Regions from separate parts of the Homo sapiens genome. Here regions 1, 3 and 4 are each linked to region 2. The links come from fine-mapping of genetic effects on gene expression. A gene starts in region 2. Each other region holds a variant in brackets. All regions are shown on one strand. Distances are from middle to middle.

Region 1 (5,144 bases), 130 kb after region 2:
AATTAAGAAATGAAGACTGAAACTAAAAGGAGTAGAAGGGCAAATGAGTACCACAAATAAAGCCTTAAGAGAAACAGACTAGGAAAAGCAGGCTGTTGAGGCTCATGTCTGCGGTCACAACTACTCGGGGACTGAGGAGGGAGGATCGCTTGAGCCCAGGAGTTCAAGTCCAACCTGCGCAAAACAAGACTCTTATCTAGAAAGAAGGGAAGGAAGGAAAGAAGGAAGGAAGGAAGGAAGGACGAGAGGGAGGGAGGGAGGGGAAGAAAGAGAGAGAGAAAAAAAGAAAGGAGGGAGGGAGGAAGAAAGGGAGGGAAGGGGGAAGAAAGAAGAAAGAAAGAAAGAAAGCAGAAAAAATTTTAAACCAAAAAGAAATGTTGAAGCCAAAAAAAAAAAAAGTCTAGAGAAAATTATAGCTATAGAAAATAGGCAAATAAGATTCAAGATACATACAATAGGAATCCCAGAAGAAAACCAAAGCAATGAAGCAGAACAAATAATAATTATAATTCAAGAAAATTTTTCTGAAATAATAAAATAAAATAAAAAATTTTTAAACTGAGTAAAGAACACCAATCAACAAAAGAAAACCAATCGACAATCCCCCCTGCCAAAAAAGAGGGGATTAAAGGTATCATATGAAGGTATTGGGGGAGGGTTGCCACAAGAATAAAAACACAAAGGTTCTCAACAACAAAATCTACACTAAACCAAGAAAGAGTAACGTGGCCCCGCCAGCACATCCCTCTAAGGCTGCAAGTCCTTGAATCCCCTTCTCTATAAGGTTCCTGGTAAGAGTTTAACAATGAGACGGGTTTTCTTTTTTTTTTTTCTTTGAGATGGAGTCTCGCTCTGTCTCCAGGCTGGAGTGCAATGGCGCGATCTCGGCACGATCTCTGCTCACTGCAATCTCTGCCTCCCAGGTTCAAGCAATTCTCCTGCCTCAGCCTCCTGAGTAGCTGGGATTACAGGCATGTGCCACCACGCCTGGCTAATTTTTGTATTTTTAGTAGAGGCTGGCTTTCACCATGTTGACCAGGATGGTCTCGATCTCTTGACCTTGTGATCTGCCCATCTCAGCCTCCCAAAGTGCTGGGATTACAGGCATGAGCCACCTCACCCAGCCTAGAGAGGTTTTCAAAAGACGTATAGTAGGCTGGGTGCAGTGGCTCACACCTGTAATCCCAGCACTTTAGGAAACAGAGGGAGGAGGGTTGCTTAAGGCCAGGAGCTCAAGACCAACCTGGGCAACATAGCGAGACCCTGTCTCTACCAGAAAAAAAAAAAAAAAAGAAATCATAAAAATAGCCAATTGTGGTAGCATAGGCCTGCCTGTAGTCCCAGCTACTCGGGAGGCTGAGGTGGGAGGATCATCTGAGCCCAGGAGTTGGAGGCTGCAATGAGCTACAATCACGCCACTCCAGTCAGCCTGGGCAACAGAGTGAGGCCCTATCTCTAAAAAAATATTTTTTTGGCCAGGCACAGTAGCTCATCCCTGTAATCCCAGCACTTTGAAAGGGTGAAGCAGGCAGATCACTTGAAACCAGGAGTTTGTGACCCAACCTGGCCAACACTGCAAAAACCTATCTCTACAAAAAACACAACAAATTAGCCGGGTGTTGTGCGTGCCTGTGGTCCCAGCTACTCGGGAGGCTGAGATGGGAGGATCGCTTGAGCCCAGAGGTTGAGGCTGCAGAGAGCCGTGATCATGCCACTGCACTGCACTCCAGCCTGGGTGACAGAGTGAGATCCTGTCTCAAAAAGAATTTTTTTTTTTTTTTTCTTGAGATGGAGTCTTGCTCTTTCACCCAGGCCGGACTGCAGTGGTGCTATCTGGGCTCGCTGCAATCTCCGCCTCCCAGGTTCACGCCATTCTCCTGCCTCAGCCTCCCGAGTAGCTGGGACTACAGGTGCCCGCCACTGCGCCCGGCTAATTTTTTGTATTTTTAGTAGAGATGGGGTTTCACTGTATTAGCCAGGATGGTCTCGATCTCCTGACCTTGTGATCTGCCCGCCTCGGCCTCCCAAAGTGCTGGGATTACAGGCGTGAGCCACCGTGCCTGGCCAAAAAGAAATTTTTTTAAACTAAAAAATTAAAAACCATATCCATCTGAGTTTGGAGAGGAAAGCAGGGCCACTCCATGCATTCCAGAGAAAAAGGGGCTTACTATAGAAATCAGTGCTTCCATAAATGCAGGAGGAGCTGGAGGGTGGGGCTGGGGAAGGTGTGGGAAGCTTGCTGCAGTCCTCATCAGCAATCACATGGGGTCAAGTGCCTGCAGAAGGCAAACAGGCAACGGTAGCTGTTGCAACAGAACGCGATGGTGAAATACAGAGTTTGCATCCTGTGAAGTTGGTGGCCTCCTCCTAT[T/C]GCACCGGAGAATTTGCTGGGGGAAAAAAATAGGAGCTCAGGGTTTTAAATATCCAGTTCAAGACCTAAAGTACCAGAAACCCTCCACTGGTGCTTGAAAAGAAGTCCATATCTCTTGTAGCCACAGAGTTGAGAGATCAAAAAAATAAACAAATCCAAACTCTGATCCCCTGGGTGGCAAAATAGAATCAAGTTCAACTACTACACTTGAACTCAGGGCCGCAAGTTTCTCTTCTGTGAAAGTCAGGGCACTGACGGGGAAAGAGTGGATCCCTGAATGGTGGAACGGATTCCATTTGGGAAGATTCTAATCCTAGGGTAGACTCTTCCTCAAGAGCCCCTACCACCTCCAGCTTCTAGATCGAAATCCCGGTGAGCTCCAGGAATGTGGCCACAAAATCTGACCCAGGAAGATGTACTATACACAACAAAAGAATTGCAAGCTATTTCCGGTTCATACTGGCAGAAACCTAGGAAATCTGTAGGGGAACAAACCCTAAGGGTGTCAGACCGGCGGGGTGGGGGAAGAAAGTAATGCCGGGTCAGGCTTAATTATTTTGATATGGTGCACTCACCAGAGATTCTGAGCTCCACGTGTCCACTCAGCACCTGGGAGTGGCTCTCAGAGTTGGCCCATTCCATCAACTGAAACCTGGAGCAGTGGTGACCCATGTTTTTATTTATTTATTTATTTGAGACAGAGTTTCACTCTTGTTGCCCAGGCTGGAGTGCAATGGCACGATCTCTGCTCACTGCAACCTCTTACTCCTGGGTTCAAGCGATTCTCCTGCCTCAGCCTCCTGAGTAGCTAGAATTACAGGCACCCGCCACCATGCCCAGCTAATTTTTGTATTTTCAGTAGAGGCAGGGCTTCACCCAGTTGGCCAGGCTGGTCTCGACCTCCTGACCTCAAGTGATCCACCTGCCTCGGCCTCCCAAGTGCTGGGATTACAGGCATGAGCCACCATGCCAGGCCTTGTTTTGTTTTTTGTTTTTTTTTTTGAGATGGAGTCTTGCTCTGTCACCCAGGTTGGAGTGCAGTGGCACAATCTCAGCTCACTGCAACCTCCATCTCCCGGGTTCCAGCAATTCTTCTGCCTCAGCCTCCCAAGTAGCTGGGACTACAGGTGCCTGCCACCACGCCTGGCTAATTTTTGTATTTTTAGTAGAGATGAGGTTTCACTATGTTGGCCAGGCTGTTCTCAAACTTCTGAGCTCAAGTGATCCACCCACCTCCATTCCCAAAGTGCTAGGATTACAGGCATGAGCCACTGCACCCAGCCCAGTGGTGACCCATTTTAAATGAAGATGGGATTCCAGGACTTCTTTGGAATTCCGTGGAGCAGAGTTTTTCTACTTCAGCACTATTGATATTTGAGGCCAGATGGCTCTTTGCTGTTGGGGGAGGTTGTGGGGACCTTAGCAGTATCCCTTGCCCACTCAATGCTAGAAACGTACCCCTCCCAGCCATAACAACCAAAGATGCCTCTGGACATTGCTAAGTGTCCCCATGGGGGGCAAAATCTCCCCTGATTGAGAGCCACTGCAGTAGAGAAAGGTGTCCAAAGAGTAGGGCCAAGCACAGTGGCTCACACCCAGAATCCCAGCACTTGGGAGGCCAAGACAGATGGATCACTTGAGCACAGGAGTTTGAGACCAGCCTGGGCAACAAGGTGAAGCCTCATCTCTACAAAAAAATGGAACAAATTAGCCAGGTGTGGTGGTGCGCACCTGTGGTCCCAGCTACTCAGGAGGCCTGAGCCCAGGAGGATGAGGCTGCAGTGAGCTGTGATCACACCACTGCACTCCAGCCTGGATGACAGAGAGAGACCCTGTCTCGAAAAACAAACAAACAAACAAAACCAAAACAGAAAAAAAAAAACCCAGAGTTAAGGAGAGGAATACTGGAGTGAATGTATCATGTACAGTCTACTCTGTTGTTTTTTTTTTTTTTTTTTTTTGAGATGGAGTCTAGCCCTGTCACCCAGGCTGGTGTGCAGTGGCGCAATCTCGACCCACTGCAACCTCCACCTCCTGGGTTCAAGCAATTCTCCTGTCTCAGCCTCCCAAGTAGCTGGGACTACAGGCTCCTGCCACCACGTCCGGCTAATTTTTTAAATTTTTAGTAGAGACAGGGTTTCACCATATTGGTCAGGCTGCTCTTGAACTCCTGACCTCAGGTGATCCACCTGCCTCGGCCTCCCAAAGTGCTGGGATTACAGGCGTGAGCCACTGCGCCCAGCCGCAATCTACTCTTTCATCCCCTAACTAGGCCCTCAGGAGGGCCCCTCACCCAAGCATTGAGAAAGACACTGGGTCAGGAACATCAGCATGTTTGAAGAGTTTGTAGTGGCTGCTCTCTGCAGGCTAGGAGTGACAGTGGGAGATGCTGCCATTGAAATGGGCTTCCTGAATTCAGTGAGGATGGTGGAATCCCAAAGTGGCGGGGCCAAGGGACAGTTCACCACGCAGACAGGGAGGGTGTCGTTACATCACAGAGAACTGGATTAATAATCAGAATGGCTTGACCCCCCACCCCCACCCCAGAGTTCCCTGGCAGTGGTTAACTCACCATGAAGAACCTAGGACTGAAACAGTTGGTTTTACCATGTAAAATTGCCAATGTTCAACCATTTTCTTTCTTTTCTTTTTTTTTTTGTTTTTTTGTTTTTTTGTTTTTTGTTGTTTTTTTTTTTTTGAGATGGAATCTTGCTCTATCACCCAGGCTGAAGTGCAGTGGCACGATCTCGGCTCATTGCTGCAACCTCTGCCT
Region 2 (5,144 bases):
GCCAGGAGCGGGTCAGGGCCAAAGCTGCCACCTGGCCAGGAGGTCATGCCTGAAGTCAGCCCCAAAGGGCAGCAGCAGCCTCTGCCCTGGAACCGAGATGCAGTGGGGCCCTGCCACCCTAGCCCGGCACTGCCAAGTGGCTGCTGTGCAGACCCAGGACAGGAAGCTCCGTCCAGCCTGGGGCCTCTGCAGCCGGCGCCCCCAAGGGACCGCCCTGTTCTCTCTGGTGCCACCAAGCAGGCCAGATCTGCCCGCCAGACTCCAGCCCGGGGCCTCCCTGGCATGTGAGAGGACAGACTGGGGACGACGAGCAGCCTCCTTGGTCAAGAGGCCCGTGTACCATTCATCCAGAATTAACCACTCTCCGTGCTGACAATGACAGCATTGTCCAGGGGCCTGGGGGGCGGGAGGCCGCCGGGAGCCCGCCCCCCTCGCTGTCCCCGCGCCCCCTGCTCGCCAGCGCTGACGTAATCTGCAAACATCCCCGGCGGCAGCTGCTGGGCGAAGCGGCCACCTCCTCCCGACGCTTTCAGCAGCCCACGCGGCTCTTCCGGCCCCGCCAGACAATTGGGCCCTTTCTCTCCCCAATTAGCTATCACTTCTGGAGGCCGCGCCGTCCAGCGCCGGCCCACGGTCTCCGCAGCAGCAGGCCCGGGATGGGGCGGGGGCCGGGAAGCTTGGCAGGGAGGCTGGGGCCACCACGGGGAAGAAGGACGGAGCCTGAGGATGAAAAGCCAAGGAGAAAAGGGGAGAAGATGAGGACAGGCGGCCACAGCCCACAGGCGGCCCCAAACACAGCTCAGCAGCACAAGGACCGCGCTCTGGGCCTCTGATGGCAAGGGGGTCAGCGCGGGAAACCGGCTTCATCCCCCAGGAAGGGGACCGGTGGACCCCCAGCAGCACCTCCCTCCAGCTCGCCCCTCCAACCTCCATCAAGAAGCCTTAGGTGGGACCTGTAGCCCTAAGCTGGGGCGCACAGGCCTGCAGGGTCCCCTGACATCCTCACAGTCACCCTGGACCGGAGGCCAGTCCTGCCTTCTACTAGCTGAGTGACCTCGGGCAAGTTGTGCAACCTCTCAGAGCCGCAGATCCTGCCTTAGAAAGTGAAGCAAATACCTCCTGCTTTGAAGGATTAGGGGAGAGAGCACTTCTCAGGGGCCACGCCCAGCGCCTGGGCACAGAGATCCTGGCCCCTGCCTCTCAGTGGATGCCTTCAGAAAGGCCTCCACATCTTTTCTGAAATAACAGTGTCTGCCCAGCCTTCTCTGACTGCCACACGCGCGCACACACACACACACACACGCATACACATGTATACATGTGTGTGCACACAGACTCACACGTGTGCACACCCAATAAGGACACATTGACCTCTACAGGCTCTGCCCCCCAAGTCCAGCTCTGGCCTCTCACAGCCGAGTTTCTGTGAGTGAGAGATAAACCGCCAGAACTGCCCCCTCTAACTCCAAGCCTACATCCTGTAAAGCAAAGGGGCCCCAGTTGGAGCTAGGGGGCTGAGCGTGAGGAACAGAGGTCTCTGGCGGCTGGGTCCTGGGAGTCCGGCCAGTTCTCACCAGCAAATGTCCAGCCTGAGCTACAGAGAACAGCAATGGGGGCCTTCCTGGCCACAGGGATCTGGGGCCCATCGCTGGTCGCCGGAAGCCAGCTCTTCAGTTCCTTCCCAGTCTACAAAATGAGTGTCCTCCCTGCCAAGCCTTTCCAGAAGGTTCAAACGGGACCACACGTTCAAACGGGAAGTGGAGCATGATGCCAACTCACCTTGGGCCGGGCACCGCCTAAGCTGCCTTCCCGCAGCCACCCTGGAGCCCCTGCCTGGACTGGCAGAGGCTGTCTGGGAAGCATGCCTGGCCCTTCCTCCATCTGTGGTGTGCCCTGCACCCACTGGGCTGCCTGGCACTGCTGTCAAAGGCCACTCACTTAGGGAACGTTGAGCTCTGGGCTTGTTTTCCACGCGCAGCGGTTTGAAGATCACTTCGAACGTGGGTGGGGAGTTAGCTCTCTGGACCCCGTCATAGAGTAAGTCATCGATAGAGCATTTGCTTGATGGGGACTTCCAGAAGGCCAGGGAAAGTCCTGCCGACTTCCTGGGGAAGCCCATCCGCACGTGGGGTGAGGGTCCCCAGATGGGAGCAGCTGTGTATGCAGGGAGGGGGCAGAGGCTGCTGCCAATGGGCATGTCCCTTACCTGAAAGGGCCACCTCTCCAGGTGACATGTCCTGGGGGAGCCGGGGCCGTCTGCTCCGGCCAGAGGCGCTCAGCTCAGGCCACACCAGGCAGGGCACCTCCCAACCTGGACAGGTGGGGACCAAGGTGGCCTTGGACAAAACTCTCTGTGTTTGCCAAGCACCCAATCGGACACAGAGAGTCAACCACACCCCAGTCACATGGTGTCCACACGCAGGGGTCAAGGAGGCCCGGCCCCTCCCCCTCAGACGTCCCTGGGCCTCTGGGAGTCAGCAAGGACGAGGACGGCATGCCCTTCGAGACAGGAAGGGAGTGACCTCCTCCCAGCGGCATCCAGGCTCGGCTTCTCCGGAGAGGAGAGGGGGCTACTTGCTGGATAAAGCGGCCGGGGCCACAGAGAAAAAGCAAGTGACCATGAGCACGTTGCAGACACAGTGCACCGACAGCATTGCAGCACGGGGACTGTGAGACCTCCCATTCTCGGGGGAAACTCCCCAAGTCCCCCCACCATCAGCAGTGATGTGACTGGGGCGGCGACCTGTGCTGGGAGCCTCCACCAGCTCCTGCGCCTCAGGCCCTGCTGCCCTGCACCTTCGCTTCCAGTAGGACCCTTCTCCAGGGCATTCTGGGCCACAGGAGCCACCCCAGTGCACAGAGACCCGAAGGCCCAGGAAGTTCCCTCCCCCAGGCAGCCCTTAACCTAAGGCTGACCTGGGCAGGACGTAGCCCAGCTTCCCTGCTTTGGACCAGGACAAACTAGAGGCCACTCTGAACCCCCAGAGCTCCCCCTGAAAATCCCAGGGACGTGCGGCTGTGCCTGGAGTCGCCCCCTTCCCAGACTGCTCCCCTTCATCTTGCCCTCCCTGCTCCTCCCTCCTGTGTCTCCCCATCACACCACCCCCCGAGTTACCCGCCTGTGAATATAATCCAGGATAAGAGTGACGAGCGCCTCATCAGCGCAGACCCAGACCCCGCCAATGGGAACGCATGGAGCTGGGCGGTGGTGGCTCCCAGCCCCGGGCCTCTGAGGATGGATCCGGGGATGCTCCCAGCCCCGGGCCTCTGAGGATGGATCCGGGGATGCTCCCAGCCCCGGGCCTCTGAGGATGGATCTGGGGATGCAAGTTGCCATCGGGACCTCAAAGAGCCAAGGCATCTTCCTGCACCCAAATGTTCAACGCTGACAGAGCAGTGAGTGACGCACCCTCACTCACTGTTTCCTGATGAAATGCTTGGCAGAGGAAACCTCTCCACAGGTGAGCTCCGTGGGGAAGGCCTGGAGTGGAAGTAACAAGGAGGTGCAAGTTCTTGCCCCCAAAGCCTGGTCCCCGCCCAGGACCAGCCCTCAGTACAGGTGACAGCCTGGGACAGAGCCCCAAGAACCTTGTGAACAGCTTCCTGTGAGCCCCAGGCAAGCTGGTCTCCACTGAAGCATCACTGGGCCTCAGTTTCCTCCCCTCAATAAAAGGGGAAAATAATCCTAGCACTTTGGGAGGCCGACGTGAGAAGGTTCAGGAGTTCGAGGCCAACCTGGGCAACATGACAAAACCCCATCTCTACAAAAAAAAAAAAAATACAAAAATTAGCTGGATGTGGTGGTGCACACTCGTTGTCCCACCTAGCTAGGAGGCTGAGGCAGGAGGATCACTTGAACCTGGGAGGCAGAGGTTGCAGTGAGCCATGATCAAGCTACTGTACTCCAGCCTGGGCAACACCTTATCTCAAAAAAAAAAAAAAAAAAAAAAAACGGTGAGGGGATGATAATCCCTTCCCAGCTTCTGCAAGCAAGGCTGGGGATAAGAGTGCTTTGCAGGGGAAATCCCCGCCCAAATGTCATCGAGATGAGCTGGACTTGGCTGACTCAAATGCAGGACCCAGGAATAATACTGAACGCCCTCCCCCAGGGACCACCAGGCACATCCCCCAGGGCCTCAGTGTGTTGGTTGGTTTTGTTATTTTCATAGCACCAACATCCTCTGAACTCTTCCATGTGTTTCTAGAACTCGAGCTCTCGCCGAATCCCCCAGGACTTAGCACAGTTCCAGGCACCCAGAAGACTCTCAGCAAGGACGGCCACGTGCATTGGAGCTGGGAGGCCAAATTAAAAGAAGCACGTGTTTTCCTTAGAACAGATTCCGCCAAAATTGTAAAACCACCACCTACAGCCTTGTTGACAGTGAGACATTCTCAGACATGTCAGGGTCCTGTTGAAAATCATTTTTTTCTTTGTTTCTTTTTGCAACAGCAAAATATGCTTGCTTTAACCAAAAAAAAAAAAAAAAGCAACCATGGCAGAGATGGGTGAGTTGGGAGAGCATGAACATCATCAACTCTTACTCCTGCCAAGACGGAGCACAGGACATGAGGACCCCGTCCAGGGCCCACGGGGAGCCTGAGTTCCCACCCCACGAAGGCCTGTGGCCCATCACCTCTTCCCCTGAGAATGCTGCATCTCAAAACCCCAGCCGGCGCAGGCTGCCGAAATCAACAGAACATGCATTTCAAACCGGGTTTCCACTGAAATGCTCCCTACACACAGACGGGCGAAAATTAATTTTCTTTCTTCCTGCGCCACAAAAGCAGATTAAAATCACGAACAGTGGGACGAGTGGGGGGAAGTGGAGGGCTTCCTCATTGAGGGAGACCCCTGCCCGGGAGGTTTCTCTCCCTAACAAGGGATGGCCTCAGCCGTTTGAAACGCCCTGCTGCAGGCATAAAGCCCGACCCAGGAGAAGGCACTTGAGAAAAAGGACGCCGCTGCCCTCCCAACGGTTGAAAGCTGGTATGTAACTTTGCTCGGGGTGATCAAACAGCTAGTCAAGGACGCTGTCAGGAACAGAATGAAATTCCAAATAAATTAGCCATGTCCAGAAGCCAATACAACACCGGATTAAGGCTCACAAAGAAAACACAATTTATTCAGCCTACCTTGTCAGAAT
Region 3 (5,144 bases), 21 kb after region 2:
AACATCCTACAACATACAGGACAGCCTCCACAAAGAATTACCCTGTCCAAAATGTGGATAGTGCCACCACAGTGGAGAAACCCCAGCTTGGAGGGATTGGTGAGGCTGCAGGTGGAGAGGCTGCAGCACCAAGCCTGGCAGCTGGACAGTCCCTGACAAAGGTGTGTTCCCTTCTCCAGCCATTCTTGAGGCCCTTGCTGAGACCAGGGGACCCTGAGCCCTGCAGGAACCCAGGCCATTGATGTATACACAGCCTCTCTGCCTGTCCACCAAGGTCCCAGGGCAGGGCCGTGTCGGTGGAACCCACGGCCAGCTCACGGACAGGAGGAAAGCAGGCCAGGCCTGTTCCTCACCTCTGCTGGTCCTGGGTTTCTCGAACTCCCATCAGGACTCAGGGTCTCCCCTCCCACAAGGTCCCAGCAAGGCTGCATGCAGCCTGCACTCACCCATCAGTCCTCGCTCCTGCCGCACCTCCCCGGCCGCCAGTGCCATCCAGGCCTCCCCAACTGAGGGGCAGGATCTTCCTTCCAAAGTTGGGCAGTCCCAGGCAAGTGTCCTCCCTCTCTGGGTCTTGGTTCCCCACATAATGGGAATCAAAATAACTGCAGCCCCAGGTCACGGCATGGGCTTGGGGTGGGACCTGAGTGTCCCTCCTCAAACACAGAAGCTTCCTTCTGACCACCAGCGCTGCTCTCTGTGAGATCACATTAGTTTGTTCTCATGCTGCTAATAAAGACATACCTGGGACTGGGTAATTTTTAAAGGAAAGAAGTTTAATTGACTCACAGTTGCACATGGCCAGGGAGGCCTCACAATCATGGCAGAAGGCAAAGGAGAAGCAAGACACATCTTCCATGGGGGCAGGCAAGAGAGAGCATGTGCCGGGGAACTCCCCTTTATAAAACCATCAGATCTCATGAGACTTATTCACTACCACAAGAACAGTACAGGGGAAACCACCCCCGTGATTCAATGATCTCCACCTGGCCCCACTCCTGACATGTGGGGATCATTACAATTCAAGGCAAGATTTGGGTGGGGACACAGCCCAATCATATCAGGGATCCTAACCCCGGAGAAAACAAAGGGTCAAGCACTGCTTTTTCTGCATTGCATTCACTGTGGGCTTCAGACACAGCAGAGTCAGGAGGACTCCTGTCCTTTGACCTGAGGCCAAGAGCCTGCTCTGACCCCTTGTCACCCTTCCCAACTGTGCCCAGGTCAGAAGTCTGTGCCCAGGCCTGCTCCTCCTGGAGGCCCCTCATCCCCAGTAAGAGCCCGCCACGGACTAGACATGTTGGGCTACACGGGCCCTGCACCAGGGCAGTCATCATCTTTACCAGCACAAAAACTCCCTCGATGACAGGGCCTCAGCAGGCCCCAGCCTTGACCCTGGCTTTCACGGTCCATTGGGTTTTGTTATAATTTACAATTTCCACTAGATGGATGGTTCCAAGTTCATTCACTTGTGCCACAAACATTTATGGGACCACCTACTGAGTACCGGGTGCTGTGGACGGGGATGTATGTGACTCACAACTTCATCGGGGCATGGAGAGTCTGTCCACCACCGTCAGGAGCATCGTGAGGAGTTGATGCTGTTCTGGGGACTCCACGTGAGAGCCTCCTGGGTCACTGAGGGAAGAGACACAAAACACAAGAAATTTGCAACCCGGAGGAGACCCACTGTCCAGGAGGGGGACCGGCAGCACCCTCACCCTGAAATAAGCTCCTGCCAATGACATTGGTTAAATCACACCCAGGTTCCCGCGTGGATGCAGATTTAGGCGGCCTGACGTGGTGAGACCTGACCTGGGAAAGTTACATGGCATCGAGGGATCGATTCCCAGTTCTGCCACTCACACTGTTCCACCTTAGACAAATAACTCACTCCCCCCACCCTGAGAAATGGGGCCAGGAACCTGCTGGCGGGTGAGGAGAGTGGGTAGAGTCTGATAAAAATGTTTGTGTTTGGGCTGGGTGGCTCAGCCCACACACAGATAGGGAAGGTGCCTCCAGGCTGGACAGAGAGGAGGAGGAGAACTCCTGGGTCACAGGCAAGCAGCAGCTGCCCGGGGCTGGAAAGGACAGCAGTGGTGGCTCATCCAGCAACTGCATTTTCTAAGCAGTGGGCAGGATCCAGCCTTGGGGTCCCCTAGACAAGGTCACTGATATGGTTTGGCTCTGTATTCCCATCCAAATCTCATGTTGAATTATAATTCCCAGTGCTGAAAGAAAGGCCTGGTGAGGCCAGGCGTGGTGGCTCACACCTGTAACCCCAGCACTTTGGGAGGCTGAGGTGGGCAGATCAGGAGGTCAGAAGATCGAGGCCATCCTGGCTAACACAGCAAAACCCCATCCCTACTAAAAGTACAAAAAATTAGCCAGGTGTGGTGGCACGTGCCTGTAGTCACAGCTACTCAAGAGGCTAAGGCAGGAGAATCACTTGAACCCAGGAGGCGGAGGTTGCAGTGAGCCAAGATTGCACCACTGCACTCCAGCCTGGGCAACAGAGCGAAACTCTGTCTCAAAAAAAAAA[AAAAAAAAAAAAAAAG/G]AAAGAAAAAGAAAAAGAAAGGCCTGGTGGGAGGTGACTGGGTCATGGGGGTGGATTTCCTCCTTGCTTTTCTGGTCATAGTGAGTGAGTTCTCACTATGAGTGAGATCCAGTTGTTTAAAAGTGTGTGGCTCTTCCCTCTGTTTTCTCTTCCCCTTTCTCCAGCCATGTAAGACATGTCTGCTTCCCCTTCGCCTTCTGCCATGATTGTAAGTTTCCTGAGGCCTCCCCAGCCATGCTTCCTGTACAGCCTGTGGAATGGTGAGCAAGTTAAACCTCTTTTCTTTATAAATTACCCAATCTCAGGTATTTCCTTATAGCAATGTGCAAATGAACTAATACAGTCACCCTGCAGTTCTGAGGACAAACAGTTGGGCAAAGGCTGACACCAGCACCAAAACCCGCAGGGTGGCCCAACAGCTTCACATCTGTTGTTCACAGGTGGCAAAGAAGACTTGGCCAAGCCAGCTGCCCAGGTGGACAAAGGCAACTGTGACAGGGAAAGCCTGGCCAGCTGCTGGTGGCCACAGGACGTGGGCACTGCAGGGCACTGTAGACAAAAGTGAATTCACACCAAAGGGTCACAGACCTAAATGTAAAACCTACAACTACAAGCCTGGAAGAAAACAGAGCAGAAGTTCTGCAACTTTGAGACAGGCATGAATTCTTAGGTAGGACTCAAAAAGCACAAAGTATAAAAGAACAAAATCATAAATTAGACCTCATCAAAACAGAAATTTCTCCTCAAAAGACACTGCTAATAAAATGAAAAGACAAGCCACAGGCTACGAGACAATATTTCCAAATTGTGTACATTATAAATATCTCTCATCTAGAACATAGAAGAACTCTTACAACTCAGTCATAAGAAAAACAACGCCTATTTTTTAAATACACAAAATTTGAACTGACACTTCACCAAAGATGAAAACAGACAGCAAATAAGCAACTGGATGGCAAACTGAAAAGATGTTCAACAACATTAGAGAGTCAGGAAAGGCAAATTAAAACCACCATACACTTACTAAAGTGGCTAAAATTTAAAACTGACAATACCAAGTGTTGACAAAGATGTGGAGCAACTGGAACTCTCATACCTTGCTGTTGGGAACGTAACACGATGCAGCCATGTCAGGAAAGAGTTTGGCAGTTTCTTATACAGTTAAATGTACACTTAACATACAATCCAGTGATAATCCCACTTCTGGCATGTGCCCAGAAGAAAACATATGTGCACCCAAAGACCCGGATACAAATGTTTGCAGCAGCTTTATTCATAGCAGCCACAAGTGGAAACAACTCAAATGTCCATTAACTGGTATGTGGGAAAGCAAGCTGTGGCATATTCATACAACCCAGCCTTCGTGCAATGGTCACACAATATTCAACAGTAAAAAGGAACTATCTACAGATACACACAACAACATGGGTGAATCTCAAATGCATATGGCAAGTGATAGAGTCACAGGCAGAGAGCTGCACAATGCACACTTCCATTTCTATGACATGCTGGAAAACCACAGGAATAAAAACCAGGTCATTGGTTTCTAGGGGCTGGGGTGGGGGCAGGCGTTGACGGCCAAGGGGCAGCATTGAGGGACTTCTGGGAGACAGCGCTGTACTATGCCTGGACTACAGTGGTCGTTGCACGATTGTGTCTTTGTCAGAAGTCACCAAACTGTAAAAAGAGCCACTTTTGCTGTGTGCTAATTATGGCTCAATAACACTCCACCCAAAAAAAAAAAAAATCACTTCACTCTCCTCATCATTGAAAGTAATGACATTGAAGGAAGAGGAGCAACACTCTTTACGTGGCAGAAATGGTGCTGAACAACCAAGGAGCTGCATTCCCTGTGGTCAGGTACCCAGGGGGCCCTGGGTTCTCTCCATTTTACAGATGAGTAAACGGAGGTCTGGAGGTGCCAGGTCACCCAGTGCCACCCAGGGAGGCTGGAATGGAGTTGGGACTTCCACCCAGGCCTGACTGCAGCATCACCCCCCAAACCACTAAGGCTGTCCTGAGAGAGACCTTGGGGATCAGCAAGCCAGCCTCCTCCTCCCGTTTTCCGGAGGAAAGCATGAGGCTTCAGGGGGCCCGACCCATCCAGGCTCACGAAGAGAGGGACAGAATCAGAATCTGGAGGGAGCCAGGTCTCATTTGTCAGCAAACGCCTTCCTACGACAACCTTGGGAATAGAAAAGACCCCAAGACATGACAGGAACGAGATCCGAGGCCACGTGCAACACAGGTGCACCAGGGTAAGCCCCGCCCCTACCCTCAGGGAGCTTCCAGCCCCATCTGGCACAAGGTCACCTCCCAGACCCTGGGCAAGTGGCAGCCCAGACACACCCAGGAGTACAAACACCTCTCCACAGTCCCCTCCTGGGACACTGGGCCCCTGAGGATGATGGAAGCTGCGGGTTCCCCATGGGGGCTCTGGGGTTACAGCAGGGAGGGAGGGGGACCCATGACATGCCTTAGGCCTGTCCAGGAGGGATTCCAGCCCCAGGGAGAAGGCAAAGACAGGAACGCCGTTTCCAAGCCGGAGAAGCAGTGAGAGTCCACACCGCGTTTCCCGGTCTGCAGGGAA
Region 4 (5,144 bases), 42 kb before region 2:
CAGCCAGCACCACCACGGGCAAGAGGTAAAAAGCCCAAGACTAAAGGCCGGCCCAGCCGCACTGAGATGCTTGTGTTCCTTCAAGTCTTGCTCGTATGAATCTTAATTAAACACAGCGAGGAAAGTTACTAAAGTTAGTTAATGAAAGGCAGGATTGGACAGGGGCTGTGAAGCAAGAGAGGATCTGTGCTGCTTGAATCTTGGGATAAAAATTAAAAGGCAGTGTTCCCCTGAAAGCATCACATGCTCACTATGGGGAAAGCCCCAAGGGAAACCACGCCTCCACACCCCAACCGTGAGGGGCCCTTGCCAAAGTCCTGAACGACAGAGCCCAGTTTCTCCCCTTCTCTCCAGGACCCAGCACAGGGCCCACCCAGAGCAAGTGCTTGGTTGTTACTTGGAAGAAGGGATGGAGACATGGAGGGATAGAAGGATGCAGTGATAGAGCAATGGTGAGATGGAGGGATGGAGAAATGAGAGACGGATGCATGGAGAGATAGGAGATGGATGGATGGATGGATGGATGGATGGATGGATGGGTGGGTGGATGGATGAATAAATGGAGGATCAATGAGTGGATGGATGGAGATATGGATGGATGATGGGTGGAGGGATGATACATGAATGGAGAGATGGAGGGATGGAGAGACTGCTGGAGGGATGGAAACATGGACGAATTAATGGAAGGACAACTGATGAATGGATGTATGGAGGGGTGGAGAGATGGATAGATGAGTGGATGGATGGATGAAGAGATAGAGAGATGGATGGATGGATAAATGGATAAATGAATAAAGGATAGATGAATGGATGGATGGAGAAGTGGATGGATAATAGGTGGATGGAAGGATGAAGAGATTGATGGATGAATGGAGGGATAGAGAGATTGATGGATGATGGATGGATGAAGGGGATGGATGAAGGGATGAATGGATTAGGAAGGGATGGAGAGACGGATGGATAGATGGAGAGATGGAAGGATGAAGGTATGGACAGCAAGCACACAAAGGTCACAAATTGCTCATTTGTGTCCTCTCCTTTGAGGAACATCTACAAGATAGGCTCACCCTATCTAAGCCTCAGCCCTGAGGAAGGCCAACCACAGTCAGCCGGCCATGTTGGTGGCCTTCTTCCCTAATGGCTCCCTCCTGTTCTGGTCTTTTGTAGACAGAGAACCTCCTTGCAATCAGACTCACACACAGCATCTAGCAGACGGCCAGTTCCCCACCTCTGGGCACGTCCTCCTTCCCTTGCCCGGAGAGCCCCCGTCTTATCCAGGCATTATCTGCTCTGTGCTTCACCAGCCCCTCTCCAGCCCAGAGCAAAGGCTGCTCAGGCTTCACCCTCTCCTGGCAGCTCCCGTCTGTTGCTGGAGATTGGTGTAGACATGACGCATGGGACACACCCTGACCAGTGAGGCACAGGGAAGACTGCTGAAACTGGGGGCTGCTCCCGGAAAAGGGTTTCTTGCTAACAGAGGGGAACACCACAGGGAAGTGCCCCTTCCCACTTGGATGTTGTCCCGTAGGGACGTGATGCTAGAAGAAGCTGCCACCATCTTGCAGCTGAGGAGTCACCCAGATCACTGATGTCATGAGTGCTTGGATGAAGCTGCCCTGGAGCCATCCTCATCCAGACTTATTGAATCCTTTCTGGTTGGGTTTCTGTGCTATGAGGTCAGGAGCACATATCTAGTGATGGGGTCTCACTATGTTGCCCAGGCTGGTCTCAAATTCTTGGCCTCAAGTGCTTCTCTCACCTCAGCCTCCCAAAACCTTGGGATCACAGGCATGAGCCACTGTGCACAGTCCCTGAGCAAGTATCCAAATGGCCCATCATTTCCCATCAACCCCAAGAAGTCAGCACTGATTAACATTCCTGAGTTAATGAGGAAACAAAGACTAGCAGAAGCTTCTGGACCCACCCTGCTCTACCTGCCAGAGAGCTCGACTGCTCCAGGGTACCCGGGGTGAGCCCAGCTCCATCTTCCCTGAGGCCACCCAGCCTGCGAGGTGCCAGCGATGTCCCTGTAACTATGGCTGGATGTTAAAGGCATAATACAAAGTGAAAGAAGCCACACTGAAGAGACTGCCAACTGCATGGGTCTATTGATGCGATTCTAGAAAAGGCAGAGCTATGAGGACCAAAAACGGATCCACCACTGGGGGGCTGGGGTGGGAGGACGCACGAGGGAGCTTTGGAGGTGATAGAAATCTTCCGTATCTTGATTACGAGGGTGTCTGTGACTACTTGCATTTGTCAAAATTCACCAAAGCATACACCTTGAAAGGATGGATGTTACCGCATGTAAATTATCCCTCCATTGGCCTGGCTTCCTAACATGCTCCCTTGGCTAGGTTGGGGTTTCTGGGGCCATGACCTGAGCATCCCAGGAAGAGCCAATCCCAGGAAAAGCTCATCCAGGGGACACTTTTCTTGATTAACGAATCTCTTCCCTAAAAATGAAATATTCGTGGAAGCCCAGAGCACAAAAAGGACCAAAGCAAAGACACCTTCTCCTCCAACCAAAGGCATCCTTGAAAAGTCCTGGGGTGCCCCGGACCATGTATGCTAGTCAAGGGCAGGTTCCACCCAACCAGAGAGGCTGGCAGAGTAGCCCCTCCAGCGGTGAGAGGACCCCCCC[G/C]GCCTGCTGGATCCATGAACCCAAGCATAGGAGGGGCCTAGGCCACTACCCGACACAAGAAGGGGGCTGTGCTGTGGAGATCACGCACAGGCAGGGGCCACCGGGAGTGGAAGGCACAGCACTGAGCCCGGAGCACCGTCAAAAGAGAGGCTTGGGCCCAATCAGTAGCTCCCCAGCAGCCTTCTGGAGAGGCGGCCACGCACACGGGCTTCCAGGACCCAAACCCCACCACTCCTCCTGCTCCGGCCGGGCCACCCTGGGCCCGTCCCTCTGCTGCTCTGCGCCTAGGTTCCCTCAGGTGTGAAATGGCAATGGTAACAGCACCTACCTCACTTGGCCTGTGCCTGTTAAACAGGATAACGAGCACAACCATCCAGGCGTTAACAACTCACTGAACACCCAGGCGGCTGTCCTCGCTGTCACCTCATGGCGAACAGGAGCTGGGGGTGAGCAAGGGGCCACGTGCACCCCCCACCAACCTCCCCCTTCAGCCCCAGCAGGCTCATCTGGTTTCTATCCGAGGTCTCCATGCGATTGGGCATGAAAGGAAAGCGCTGGTGCTCAATGAAGTTTGAAAACTCCGGTCTCTGTGGCCCCTCCGCCGGCCGCCTGGGACCCTGACCACCACTTGCCTCAGGCCTGGAAACAGGCCTAACGCTGTCCAGGCAAGCAGAATCAAAGGCCCTCTGTCGAGCGCACATTTTCCAAGCGCTTGGAGGGTCTGTGAGGTCCTGGGAGGTGGGGAGGACGCGAGGTTATAATTGGCCTCCCCTGGGCCAACAGTACTTCTTAAGAAGGCGCCGCACAAAGAGTGTCCAATTTCCCAACCCGGCAGACCGTGGGTTTAATTAAGGTCCATAAAAATGTAGCCGGCAAAGTGTAAGAGGTATTGCATCTTTCCCAGTCAATATGGGCATGTGTCTTACCTGGAAAAAGTGGTTTATGCAGAAAGAATTTCCCAAATGGGTTCCATATGCCTGCTTTCCCCCATAGCGGGGCCTTCCACCGGGGCCGGGGTTGGGGGCTGGGACATGGGCCCTCCTCCCAGCACGGCCTCCTCGCTCACCCTCTGCCGGCTGCCGCTGTTTAAACAGAAGACGTCATGGCGAGTGATATACGGTGGATTCCAAAGATTGTTTCATCCAGGGGAAATTGCTCCTGGAGCCAGCTCCATCCCAGGTAAGCCACAGAGACCTACTGTGAAGTGAACTGTTCACCCTCCCGCAGGCCCTGAAGCAGGAAGTGCTCCTCATGCCCACTGCTTACTGTCAGTTACTCCATGGCCCAACAAGGGCGCCAGCACAGGGCCAGGCACTCGGGACCCCAGAGATGGAAGGGACCACAGGGGTGTCTGGCTAGCGTTCCCCATCACACTTTCCAGATGGGACCACTGAGTTCCAGGGAGGGGACACAACTAGCCCGGGACAACGGATCTTGGAAGCCGTAAGAGTGGCATTGATTCGGGGTACCATGGAAGTCAAAAGGTAGTCAGGAGAGGCAGAGAGGAGAGAGGGGGAGCGAGAGGGCATCTTTAACGCCTGTTCCCAATGCTAGATGCAACCCCAGATGTCCTAGTTATCTGAGCCAATATAAATTCTCTGCCCCTCATGATGGTGGCTCCCCCCGTCTCTTCATCCACATGTCACCTCCTCCAAGGAGCCTACTGGGCTGCCCCACACTTCACACAACTCTCCAGCTCCTCCCTCTGAAATGTTACTTTGCTCATGGGTCGGTTAACTTACCCACTGGCTATTGCCATCAGTAGTACTGATTCTCAGGAGAGCAGGAACCATACTTGTCTTGTTCATTGTGGTATCCCCATGGCTGGGACAGATCTAAGCATATAACAAGTGCTAAATGATGACGATTTATTCATCATTATCACCACCATCACCATCACCACTATTGCCATATCATCATCATCACCATCGTCATCACAATCACTACCACCACCACTACCCCATCATCATCATCATCACCATCATCATCACCACTGCCACCACCATCATCACCATCACCACCATCACCATCATCATCATCACCATCATCACCATCACCACCATCACCATCACCATCATCATCACGACTGCCGATAGCATCATCATCACCATCACGGATCATCATCACCATCATCATCATGAGCAGTATCGCCATCATCACCACCACTGCCACCACCATCATCATCATCATCATCACCATCACCATCACCATCACCAGTATCACCATCATCATCACCATCATCACCATCACCAGTATCACTGTCATCACCACCACTGCCGCCTACCATAATCATCATCACCATCACCACCATCACCATCACCAGTATCACCATCATCATCACCACTGGCCACCACCATCATCATCACCATCACCACCATCACCATCACCAGTATCACCATCATCATCACCACTGCCACCACTACCATCATCACCATCACCATCACCATCATCATCATCATCATGACCATCATCATCATCATCACCACGTTTACCACCATCA

Evidence for each region. PIP is the estimated chance that this variant, and not a neighbour inherited with it, causes the effect.
Region 1: its variant is the best candidate, but not a certain one, in a credible set for the expression of SMIM38 in whole blood (TOPMed, PIP 0.56).
Region 3: its variant is the best candidate, but not a certain one, in a credible set for the expression of SMIM38 in prefrontal cortex (CommonMind, PIP 0.56).
Region 4: its variant is the best candidate, but not a certain one, in a credible set for the expression of SMIM38 in lymphoblastoid cells (GTEx, PIP 0.54).

What each region holds. Positions count from the first base shown.
Region 1 is chr11:69,025,334-69,030,477 of GRCh38, reverse strand. No RefSeq gene overlaps it. Among named protein-coding and RNA genes, the nearest start is that of MRGPRF, 15 kb to the right of the region's middle. The variant T/C (reference allele first, on the strand shown) is at 2,372.
Region 2 is chr11:69,152,750-69,157,893 of GRCh38, reverse strand. It overlaps SMIM38 (small integral membrane protein 38), which reads right to left and starts at 1,959. Exons shown (of 3, transcript NM_001369201.2): 1 at 1,780-1,959; 2 at 1-720. The coding sequence starts at 47. All of the region lies in intron 2 of LOC338694 (a long non-coding RNA gene), which reads left to right. RefSeq lists silencers at 234-593, 3,839-4,133 and an enhancer at 1,478-2,405.
Region 3 is chr11:69,131,926-69,137,069 of GRCh38, reverse strand. No RefSeq gene overlaps it. Among named protein-coding and RNA genes, the nearest start is that of SMIM38, 21 kb to the left of the region's middle. RefSeq lists an enhancer at 950-999. The variant AAAAAAAAAAAAAAAG/G (reference allele first, on the strand shown) is at 2,540.
Region 4 is chr11:69,194,609-69,199,752 of GRCh38, reverse strand. No RefSeq gene overlaps it. Among named protein-coding and RNA genes, the nearest start is that of SMIM38, 41 kb to the right of the region's middle. RefSeq lists an enhancer at 2,925-3,549. The variant G/C (reference allele first, on the strand shown) is at 2,645.